Homo sapiens: one gene and its partners. The protein of the gene in region 3 interacts with the protein of the main gene of each other region in a pairwise test. Each region holds a gene or a part of one and is shown on either strand. Other genes may lie near its edges.

The links.
Region 1: the proteins of TAF12 (region 3) and PRKAR2B interact in binary tests that used the Homo sapiens proteins (3 or more experiments, as listed by UniProt).
Region 2: the proteins of TAF12 (region 3) and CLIC6 interact in a two-hybrid assay, tested with the Homo sapiens proteins (one large-scale study listed by BioGRID and IntAct).

Annotation. Positions count from the first base shown.
Region 1 is NC_000007.14:107,047,581-107,051,233, reverse strand, and holds part of PRKAR2B (cAMP-dependent protein kinase type II-beta regulatory subunit), read right to left. Parts: intron 1-3,653. UniProt on the Homo sapiens protein: Regulatory subunit of the cAMP-dependent protein kinases involved in cAMP signaling in cells. Type II regulatory chains mediate membrane association by binding to anchoring proteins, including the MAP2 kinase.
Region 2 is NC_000021.9:34,671,871-34,675,523, reverse strand, and holds part of CLIC6 (chloride intracellular channel protein 6), read right to left. Parts: intron 1-3,653. UniProt on the Homo sapiens protein: In the soluble state, catalyzes glutaredoxin-like thiol disulfide exchange reactions with reduced glutathione as electron donor. Can insert into membranes and form voltage-dependent chloride-selective channels.
Region 3 is NC_000001.11:28,618,915-28,622,567, forward strand, and holds part of TAF12 (transcription initiation factor TFIID subunit 12), read right to left. Parts: intron 3,252-3,653; coding exon of another isoform or gene 3,168-3,251; coding exon 3,000-3,167; intron 1-2,999. UniProt on the Homo sapiens protein: The TFIID basal transcription factor complex plays a major role in the initiation of RNA polymerase II (Pol II)-dependent transcription.

The DNA of each region.
Region 1 (3,653 bases), on a different chromosome or scaffold from region 3:
AAACCTTATCAATCAACTTGATGGAAGACAGAAAAAATTCATATGATGTAAGTTAATATAAATAGCGCACAAAATGTTGGCAACAGTTGTATGAACAAACTCAAATTTATAAGGCCAAAACCTACCAAATTTGGATAAGGAACTTCTCTGTCTCTCACCTGCCCCATCTATTAACAAAATTGATCATACATACTATCTATGAGGCCATCTCTGACAAAAGGATGGTGTCTTAAGTCTAGGCAGGGAGCAGTGGCTCACGCCTCTAATTCCAACACTTTCGGAAGCTGAGGCAAAAGGACTGCTTGAAGCCAGGAGTTCAAGACCAGCCTGGGCAAGAAAGGAAGACCCATCTCTACCAAAAAACAAACAAAAACAGAAAAAAATGAAGTCTAAAGAGAGTAAATGTAAGACGAATCATTTCTTTTTTCTTAAAATAAGAACTATCCTACCTTCCAAGTTTCACACATTGTTTCTAATAGGCCATCCCAGATCTCAGCACTTTCTGTGATTCTCCACACTTCTAAAGTAGACCCTGCAGTTAGTCACTTCAGTCTTCTTCACTGAATCTCTCACCTTAAAATATTCCATCATTCCCCAACCTCCACTGTAGGACTTTATTACTACTACTACTGACAAACGATTTTCTTAATGGGTCAAAAATAAACCCCAAATTGATGGATTCATAGGTCCCCTGTTTGTATTTGCACAACTGAAAAAGAAACACAATTGTTTTTCAACATAGCTGTTAACAAAATCTTGACGGCTGGAAATTTACTGGAATCCATGGAATGAGATTTGCAACAATAAAATAACCATTCAATATTCACTCCTGTTCTACCCAGACACAGCACATCAATTTATGTGCATCCACAAAAAAAAAAAAAAAAAAAAAAAAAAAAAGCTGGTAACTGTCTTATCTAAAATAATAGCTAAATGGTTTGGTTTTTGATAGAAAAATTAAAGTACTAATGCTTCAATTTCTGTTTAGGTGTTTCCATTGTATGTCTTCAAAGTGTAAGTTACTCAAGCAAGCCTTCACAACTGGTTTTACTTCTCTCTTGCTCTCTCCCTCCCCCTTTCCCTTCTGACTTCATTATCTTTCTCCCTCTACCACCCTTCTTCCAAAGCCCAAAGTAATAGATGGTAAGAGAAGGGGTTTTTTGGTTTCCCAATTTCAACCCCTAAAGCAATCCACCTACTATTACTAGTAAAATGAATAATGTTCTTAACTTCTGCTTTGAAAATCACAATCACTATCTCTAACTCAAAATAATTTTTATTATCTTTTCTGACACTATTGTTTTATGCTCATAACTAAAATAATGGCTTCAATATTTTAGCCATTGTCATGAATGATTTAATCCATTTCAGGAGGATTTAAAACCACCATGTAAATCTCTAATAGCCAAAAACTATAAAGTCTCATTAATTACAAAATCCTGGAGCTCTTAGCTACAAATTATGAGCTGAAAAGATATGGATTTTATTACTGTATAACATTAAATCCTAAGTAAAACTGCCACATAAGCTCATTCCCTGCTTCACCTCGCCAAGAAGTGCAATACTGGATTCATTTCCATAAAACACAATGAAATTGCTATTCTGCAAAAAAAAAAGTATATAACTCTGTAAGATTTTATATCAATGATATAAACTTTACAATATTTTGCTTGACCTTAAGGATGTTTTGTAAATTCTCCAAATTCCCTTTGAACTGTAAAAACCAAAAGGTAGGTAAGATTCCAACAAGACTGGACATGGGACAGAGTTAAGAGGATTAAGCCACAGTTATTACATGGTAAATTTCTATTTATTACTTTTGATATGCTTGTCTTATGGGGTATGAGTCTATATTTTTGGTATGTGTATCTACTTTGAACTCTAGATCTTTTTCTTCTATAACTCAGAAAATCAGCTCTTTATTTTCTATCACGGTAGTTATTTTTTCTCCCAGGTTGACTGCTCTGCATGTGCCCATGTGTAGTTAATTTTGTTTCTGACCACTTGTCCATTTATCAGAGTAATCTGAATGGTATTTACTTCATTTTTTGTTTCAGCAATTCCACTGAAGAAATTATGGGGCAACACAAGATCTCTTGATGATGCCTATATAAAATCATGAATTACCACAGATTTTACTCCAAACTAGTACTGATGCAATGCTATAGCCTACCGTAAACCTTCTAAGAAATTCAAGGCCTAGGGATGCTACCCTTTCAGACATGACATGTCAAACTGTATTTGCTTTCTCTAGGACGGGGAAGAGGGAGACAGAGTAGATGCCAAGAGGTTTCCATTATGGCTTCTTTCTGGCCTTTGAGAGTTTCCCTAGAAAGGGTCACCATAAGCCACTATCATTCTAACATCTAAAGCTTGCTCTTTCGACCAGAATTGATAGCAAATGGAAAGTAACAATTAGAATTTATAAGACTGGAAGAGAATAGGAGAGGGAAAAGAAAGCTATTAGAAGAGGAAGGGATCCTTTGGAAAGGTAGGAAAGAAGATGACCTTCACCCATCTGACTGTTTGCTCTAGCGCCACCTACAGCCACACCACCTGACCCTCAAAAATCACCGACCCCTGGCCAGACAACATTTTTTCCAGCTAACTGCAGGTGCCTGGCTTATTTGATTAAACCACCACATTATAAGGTCAAGGTCACATGCTTGATCCCTACGTTTGTCCTACGTTTGTCAATGGGCACAAGTTGCATGGTCAAAAACTTGCCTTTTAACTCCAACCTCTCATAAATACCATCACTTACGTTAAAGACATTCACAAGAGAGGATATGAACCAACAATGCAAATCCATCAGCATTACTAAAAGAAAAAAAAACAGGAAAACCTGACTTGTGAGTCAGCCCACAGAACAAATTCCATTTAAGAACTCCCTGATCATCCTGGGCTTCAAGGTTAGATACATAAGAGTAAGAAATCAGGCTTCCCTACTTACTCGTTTTATGTGTGACCTTGGACAAGTTAATTTTTCAGAGCTTTAACAATAAAACACATTAAGGGTCCCAAATAGAGCTTGACATATAAGGGATACTCAGGTTATGCTAGCCCCAGCCCCATCTGGAGATAGAATCGGGCAGTCAAGAGCACAGGGATGAAGCCAGGTCCACCTGTATCCCAATCTTGATTTTGCAGCTCACGTGAAACACTGGGCAAGTGATGGCCTTATCGTTCTCATAAAGCTGAGACAAAAAAATTAAAGCATTTAGACAGCACACAGCAATTGTCAACTAACGGCAATTATGTTTTAAATGTTAAGAAGAATATAGTATTATCACTATCTGTTAATGTTTTCCAAAGTACAGTCATGGAACTATTGATATCAGAATGACCTGGGTGGGATGTCTACTGAGGGGGAAGAAAAGGATATCATGTCCCATCTCAACCTATTTAAAAAAGCTCTCCAAAAATGGTACAGGGTAATGGTCATTTCTGAATCAAACTTCCTTGAGATATCTATGAAAATTTCAGAATTACTGACCCAGCAGGTCTTGTGCTGTGTCATAGTAAATTAAGACTTGTTTTCCAATCCTTATTCTTTACTATGCCAGAATTGCCCAGTATCTGGGGTTCTTTTCTAATGAGACACATTTCTGGACATAGATGTCAAACTGATAGGCTCATACTTTTTAGGATCA
Region 2 (3,653 bases), on a different chromosome or scaffold from region 3:
TTGTTTTTAGGGGAGAATTAAAGTCTCAGAAATGCATCTTTGCTCACTTTCCTTCAGAACACATAGTTGTGAAAATAACATCTCCCTTTCAAGCTCCCTGGAGACCAAGCCCCATAGAACAAGTCCCAACATGCTCTCTCCCAGTGACATGTCCACAGAGAGCCACAGCTTACCGTTCTACCAGGAGTCCATCAGACGCTGGTCCTGGCTCATTCTTGCCCAGCCCTGTGGTATGGCAATGCTTGGAAGGCTCTTTTTTTTTTTTTTTTTTGGAGGGGCGGGGGCTCATTTCTGGGTGACAGTGCTTATTCAAAGGCCATGTCCTTCTTGAGTTTTACTGTGTTTCATCGGGTCAGTTTCACCTCTTTGGAGAACCCAAATGTGAATACAAATGCAAGTTTTTTTAGCTCAGCAATAACTGCATGTTTACAAGTAAACAGGTGGTGTCTAAATCCTGGGTGGCCCAGGACTAATCACTGGTCAACACTGAAGTTTTTTAAGTCATGTCAAATTTGCCAGGAAAGCCGTAGCTCAGACTGTCCCACCCAAAGACCCTGACTCAAAGCTTACACGCCAGATTAGGGGAACCAAAGCCGTAAGCAAGACTTCCTTGGCGACTAAATCTCCACTACCGCTGAACTCCTTACTTAAATGAAGTTCTTACTTAACTCTCTGCTGCTAGTGTTTTGCCTGTTGTTATTATGTTGTTGTGTGATTATGTGATTATGTTGTTACCCTTTGTTATTATGAGGAAAGAAAAAGAACCTTTCTTACTAAATATATTGCAGAGTTACCCTATAATTTGATGACAAATAATTAACACTTCTTTGAGAAAACAAAACTAAAAATTAGCATAATCAGCAATTAATTTACCACAAAATAATTTAAGACCTTTCTTGGCTGGTTCTATATGTTCCTGGCTTCTGTACAAGAATGCATCCTTGCATGCTTGTAAAATAAAACAAACTGACAAATTAATAACATGACAATTCTCATAAAGATGGAGAATATATTAGATGGCTAATTAGAAGCAAATGTGGGACAATTATTATTACATGTTACTACATAGTTAGCCATGACTTTCTGGTATATTTGTAACCAATATATTTATTTTTAACAAAATAGGAAGAGAGGCCAGGCATGGTGGCTTGTGCCTATAATCCCAGCACTTTGAAACGCCAGAGTGGGAGGGTCACTTGAGCCCAGGAGTTCGAGACCCTCTGGAGCAAAAAAGTGAGACCTCTGTCTCTACAAAAATTTTTTTGAAAAAACTAGCTGGGTGTAATGGTGTGTGCCTGTGGTCCCAGCTACTCAGCAGGCTGACACAGGGAGACTGCTTGAGCCTAGGAGCTGGAGATCAGCCTGGGCAACATAGTGAGACCCTGTCTCAAAAAAAAAATTGGAAGAAATGTGAAAGCTAGGAGTTCCCAAATAAAATATGGGCTAACTGATTTTAAAATGTGTTTGCTCAGCTGTCATATGAAGGCTAGGAGAATGTTTGAGAGAATATTGCAGTACTTTCCTTTAAACCCAGCTGTGAATTCCACACTCCAGCTATGCCATACAAAACCCACCATGAAGACGCATCTAGGCATGTTCACAAAACCCAGCTCAGGTGTCCACTGTAGAATAGAACCCAGACAAAACTGAGCCCAAAAAAGGAGCCTAGAAAAGGCTAATTCTGGCAAAGAAATCCTATTCTGAACTAATTTCCAGATTTTACATCAAGTATTTCAAACTCAGAAAATATGAGTCTAAAGGGTGTTTTTTTGTTTGTTTGTTTAGTTTTGTTTTTTGCTTTGATGTCTGTCTTTTTTGTTTTTGTTTCATTTTGTTTTCAAAGAGCATAATTGGTAGGATAAGAAGAAACTGAGACACAATATCAATACTGTGAGGCTCATGATAAGTGACCCCTCAGAAGTTAACAAATCTCAGCCAGGTGTGGTGGCTCAAGCCTGTAATCCCAGCACTTTGGGAGGCCACGGTGGGTGGATCACCTGAGGTCAGGAGTTTGAGACCAGGCTGGCCAACATGGCGAAACCCCATTCTACCAAAAACACAAAACAATTAGCCAGACGTGGTGGCGCATGCCTGTAGTCTCAGCGACTCAGGAGGCTGAGACACAAGAATCACTTGAACCCAGTCTGTGGAGGTTGCAGTGAGCTGAGATAGCACCACTGCACTCCTGTCTGGGTGACAGAGCAAGAACCTGTCTCAATTAAAAAAAAAATAAAAAAGTTAACCAATCTCATCATTTGGAGATCTATCTGTTTCCTTAAGAAAAAAAAAAGTTAGCAACTGAGCACCAGATCAATCATCAGAATAAAGCATTGTGGGTAAGCTGCTCGTGCTGGGCCGCTGCTGGTGCTAGGCCACATGCTTCTGCCCACACAAACTCCTCCCAAGCAGTATTTGAGGAAGCAAGTTGTTTTTACTTTTCACAACATTCTTATCCCTAGAGATTGGAGGTAATTACGTACCTAGAGGGATTTTCCCTAAAAATAAATAAAATAAGTAATGGCAGGGATAACTGTTTCTGTGCAAAATCAGTGCAAGTTATGCGAGCAGCACAGATGTAACAATAGGAACTCACATGTGTACTAAGCTTATTTCCAGCCAGGCACTTTTCTAAGTGCTTTGTGTAATCTAATTCTCAATTTCTCACGGTAACCTCAAGGGCTAGGTACTATTACCGTCCCCATTTTATCAATGAGACCACAATGATACCAAAAGATTAAGTAACTTGCCCAAGGTCACACGGCAAGAAATTAGCAAAGCCAAGATTTGATCCCAGACCCACTGGCTCTAAAGTCCGTGTTCTTGATCACCACACTATCCAGCAGCTAGCCGCCCATTCAAGCCTTCACCACATCCCACACCTGTGTTCTGCGCTGGAGATAGAATGATGAATTTCACACAGCTGAGGAAAGAGACATAGCAGGCTGAGGGCAATGCCTTAACAGGGTCATCCGACTGGGACTGGAAGATATGACATCCATGCTAACTCTTGGACTTGTGGCAGATAACTAGGCAGGAGGGCAGACAGGGGCGAGGAGGAGAAACTCCATTCAGACAGAGGGTACATAATGTAGAAAGTTTCAAGGCAGGAAAGAACGTGGCTCCCTCAAGGAACAGTAAGTAGTTTAATCCAGGTGGCATAGCGAGACCACAGGTAACAAAGGGTGGGGACACCCAGCAATGCCAAGGCCAGAAAGAAAGAAGGCAGAAATAACATCACAAAGGGCCTTGTGGGCTGCCTAAGGAGTGGGGATTTACCTGAAATTCTGCAATAAACAACTGAAGAATTTTACACAAAGAAATAAAATGATCAGATCTTGTCCGCAGCTCACTGGCTATTACAAAGAGACTAGATTGGAGAGGACAGAGAACTGAAACAGGGAGACTAGCCAGAAGCTGCTACTGTCCATCAAAACTGTGCTAAGAGGCCGTGTGCCAGAATCATGTATCCTTACAACCACAGCAACGGGAAATTTCTAAAACCAAGGTGATGGAGAGGAGCAGATTTGGGGTCACACAGCAGCACTGCGCTCCAGCTCTTCCCAGCAGCCTCTCAGGGGCTGGTGTCCTGAGGTTATGTCCCAGGGTCTTGAAAAAAGCCAGAAACAGCACCTTCTCACTAGGGAAGAAACACA
Region 3 (3,653 bases):
ATCTGTGCCTGTAGTCCCAGCTACTCAGCAGGCTGAGGCAGGAGGATCACTTGAGGCCAGGAGTTAGAGACTGCAGTGAGCTATGATTGTGCCACTACACTCCAGCCTGGGGAACACAGGAAGACCTCATGTCTTAAGAAACAAACAAAAAAAAGGGCCTGGCACAGTGGCTCACGCCTGTAATCCCACCACTTTGGAAGGCCGAGGTGGGAGGACTACCTGAGCCCAGGAGTTCAAAGACCAGCCTGGGCAACATGGCGAGACTGCATCTCTATTTAAAAAAAACATCTACAAAATGGCTGGGTGCAGTGGCTCATGCCTGTAATCCCAGTACTTTGGGAGACCGAGGTGAGCGGATCACGAGGTGAGAAGACTGAGACCATCCTGGCTAACACGGTGAAACCCTGTCTCTACTAAAAATGCAAAAAAAAAAATTAGCCAGGCGTGGTGGCGGGCGCCTGTAGTCCCAGCTACTTGGGAGGCTGAGGCAGGAGAATGGCGTGAACCCGGGAGGCAGAGCTTGCAGTGAGACGAGATTGCGCCACTGCACTCCAGCCTGGGCAACAGAGTGAGACTCCATCTCAAAAAAAAAAAAAAATCTAAAAAATATATAAAAAATAAATTAAGAAAAAAGAAAAAGTTAGGCACTTGACCTCCTCAGTGCCCATTTGAGTCTCTTCCAAGTGTACTTTCCTTTCTTTCCTGCTCTAAACCTTCTAGTAAAATTCCACTGAAAAAAAAAAAAAAAAAAAAAAGCCGGGTACGGTGGCTCATGCCTGTAATCCTAGCACTTTGGGAGGCTGAGGCGGGTGGATAACCTGAAGTCAGGAGTTTGAGACCAGCCTGACCAACATGGCGAAACCCTGTCTCTACTGAAAATACAAAAATTAGCTGGGCATGGTGTGGGTGCCTATAATTCCAACTATTAGGGAGGCTGAGGCAGGAGAATAGCTTGAATTGGGAGGAGGAGGTTGCAGTGAGCCAAGATTATGCCATTGCACTCCATCCTGGGTGATAGAGCGAGACTCTGTCTCAAAAAAAAAAAAGAGAGAGAGACAGACAGAGGAAAAAAAGAAAAACACCAAAAGACATACACTAAAATGCTAACCATGGCTATTTTAGGGTGGTGGCATTAGAATTATAGGCTATTTATTCTTTGTGTATTTCTGAAGTTTCTGTGATGAACACATATAACTTTTGAAATAAGGAAAAAAGAAAAAAAATTTTTTTTTTTTTTGAGACGGAATCTCGTTCTATCACCCAGGCTGGAGTGCAGTGGTGTAATCTCGGCTCACTGCAACCTCTGCCTCCCGGGTTCAGGTGATTCTTTTGCCTCAGCCTCCTGAGTAGCTGGGACTACAGGTGTGCACCACCATGCCAGGTTGATTTTTGTAATTTTAGTAGAGATGGGGTTTCAGCATATTGGCCAGGCTGGTCTCGAACTCTTGACCTTGGGTTATCGCCTGCCTTGGCCTCCCAAAGTGCTGGGATTACAGGCGTGAGCTACCGCGCACACCCAAGAAAATAATTTTTTTTTTTGCAACAGAGTCTCGCTCTGTCGCCCAGGCTGGAGTGCAGTGGCGCAATCTCTGCTCACTGCAAGCTCCACCTCCTGGGTTCACGCCATTCTCCTGCCTCAGCCTCCCGAGTAGCTGGGACTACAGGCGCCTGCCACCACGCCTGGCTAATGTTTTTGTATTTTTAGTAGAGACGGGGTTTCACCGTGTTAGCCAGGATGGTCTTGATCTGACCTCGTGATCCGCCCACCTCGGCCTCCCAAAGTGCTGGGATTACAGGCTTGAGCCACCATGCCCGGCCGAACCCAGAAATTTGAGGCTACAGTGAGCTATGATTATACCATTGCACTCTAGCCCAGGCAACAGAGCAAAACCCTTTCTCTAAAAAAAATGAATAAATATTTGTTAATGATGTCTCATATCTATCCATTCTTCTTCATTCTATCATTATCACCTAATTCGAGCCTTCACTACATGTCTTGATTTATTGCAAAAATCTTAGAATTGGTCATCCACCCAGTCTAACCCCCTTTTCTACCCATCCTGTCCCCTTACTGCCAAGTTAATCCTCTATAGGACACACTATTTTTATTATGTTACTTTTACTCCTTTATTAAATATCTGCAAAGATTGTATATTGCCTAAAAGTTCCAATGGAAATTGACTAGTACAGGTCCACTATGTTCTGCCCTACCTATACAATTTTAAATTCTGTCTTCTACAACAGACTCCATATTCAACATAGGTTGATATCCTGACTGCCCAACCCGCTCTCATTAATCTTTGCAAGTCCCTCCACTCATTCCCTTGAAATACTGGGCGAACTCATCCATTCTACACAGCCTACAAAAAACAAGTCAAAGGGATTATACTTATTTCTTGTGGCTCTGGAGGGCAGAATCAGAATTATGGGTAGAAAGAATGGAGCAGATTTTAGAATCACTGCAGAAAATTAATAATGGCAGCAATTGGATGAACTAGAAGATGGAATGACTAGAAGCAAGAGTACTTTTATCATAGGAATAATGAATCAATTTATTATTTTATTTAACAACTACATGGTTAACATGTATATAAAGCACTTATCAAAATGAAAGGAAAAAAACACCTTTCATAGGCAAGGTATTGTGTTAGTGTGTACAGATGGATGGATGGATGTATATATGCATACACACAACCACATACAATACAGTAATTAATAAACATTGTACATGATAATTTGCTAAAGAATGTTCCCAGAGGAGTATACATTCAGGACAACTTGAATCTGTGTCTCCTGAATTGGGAGTCCTCAAATTTGGCCCAAATAAACTCTCTACTTATATTAAAACAAACAAAAAAAGTTAGAAATCCAAAAGAGGGAAAAGACCTTTTCGGCTAAGAGAAAAAAGCAGCATCTGAGATGGACATCTCTTAAAGTATTACAGATTGAAATAATAGGTAAGAAGTGGCTACAGAGAAGAAAGAGTAAGAGGATGATACCTGATTGTTTTCAGGGCTAAGACGACCTCCTGCCCCAGGAGTGCCTGGTATCTTTACCACTGCAGTACTATTGGCCATGGAGCCTTGTGGAGGGGTGCTGGCTGGTTCCGGTTTTATGGATGAGAAATTGGAGAGGTTGATTAGGGCTGAGGGGCCAAACTGGTTCATAATCTGCCGAGCTTTGGACTTCAGCTCATAGAGCTTATCGAGATCCTGTTTCTTTTTGGAGCTGTGAGGACCAAGGCCAATTAACTGGAGAAGAAAAGCACAAGAATTAGCTCTAGAAGAACCTGTAATAAAGGATGAATCTTGAGAGTAAAAAGAGGCCTGGTGCAATGGCTCACAACTGTAATCCCAGCACTTTGGGAGGCCCAGGTGGTAGCATCACTTGAGCCCAGTAGTTCAAGACCAGCTTGGGCAACATAGCGAGACCTAGTCTCTACCAAGAAAAAAAAAAAAAAAAAAAAGTAAGTAAAATGAGGTCTGTTAGACTTTGAGGGTTCTTCAGTATATATGGAATGGTGACCATTTAATATCCACAGGTTAAAAATTGAGGGAATGAAGAATGTTTATTACTCTCAGCTGATATTTAGAAACCATCTCATTTCCAAATATTAAGTGAAATAGTCCACAAAATTTAAACAAGGAAGCAAG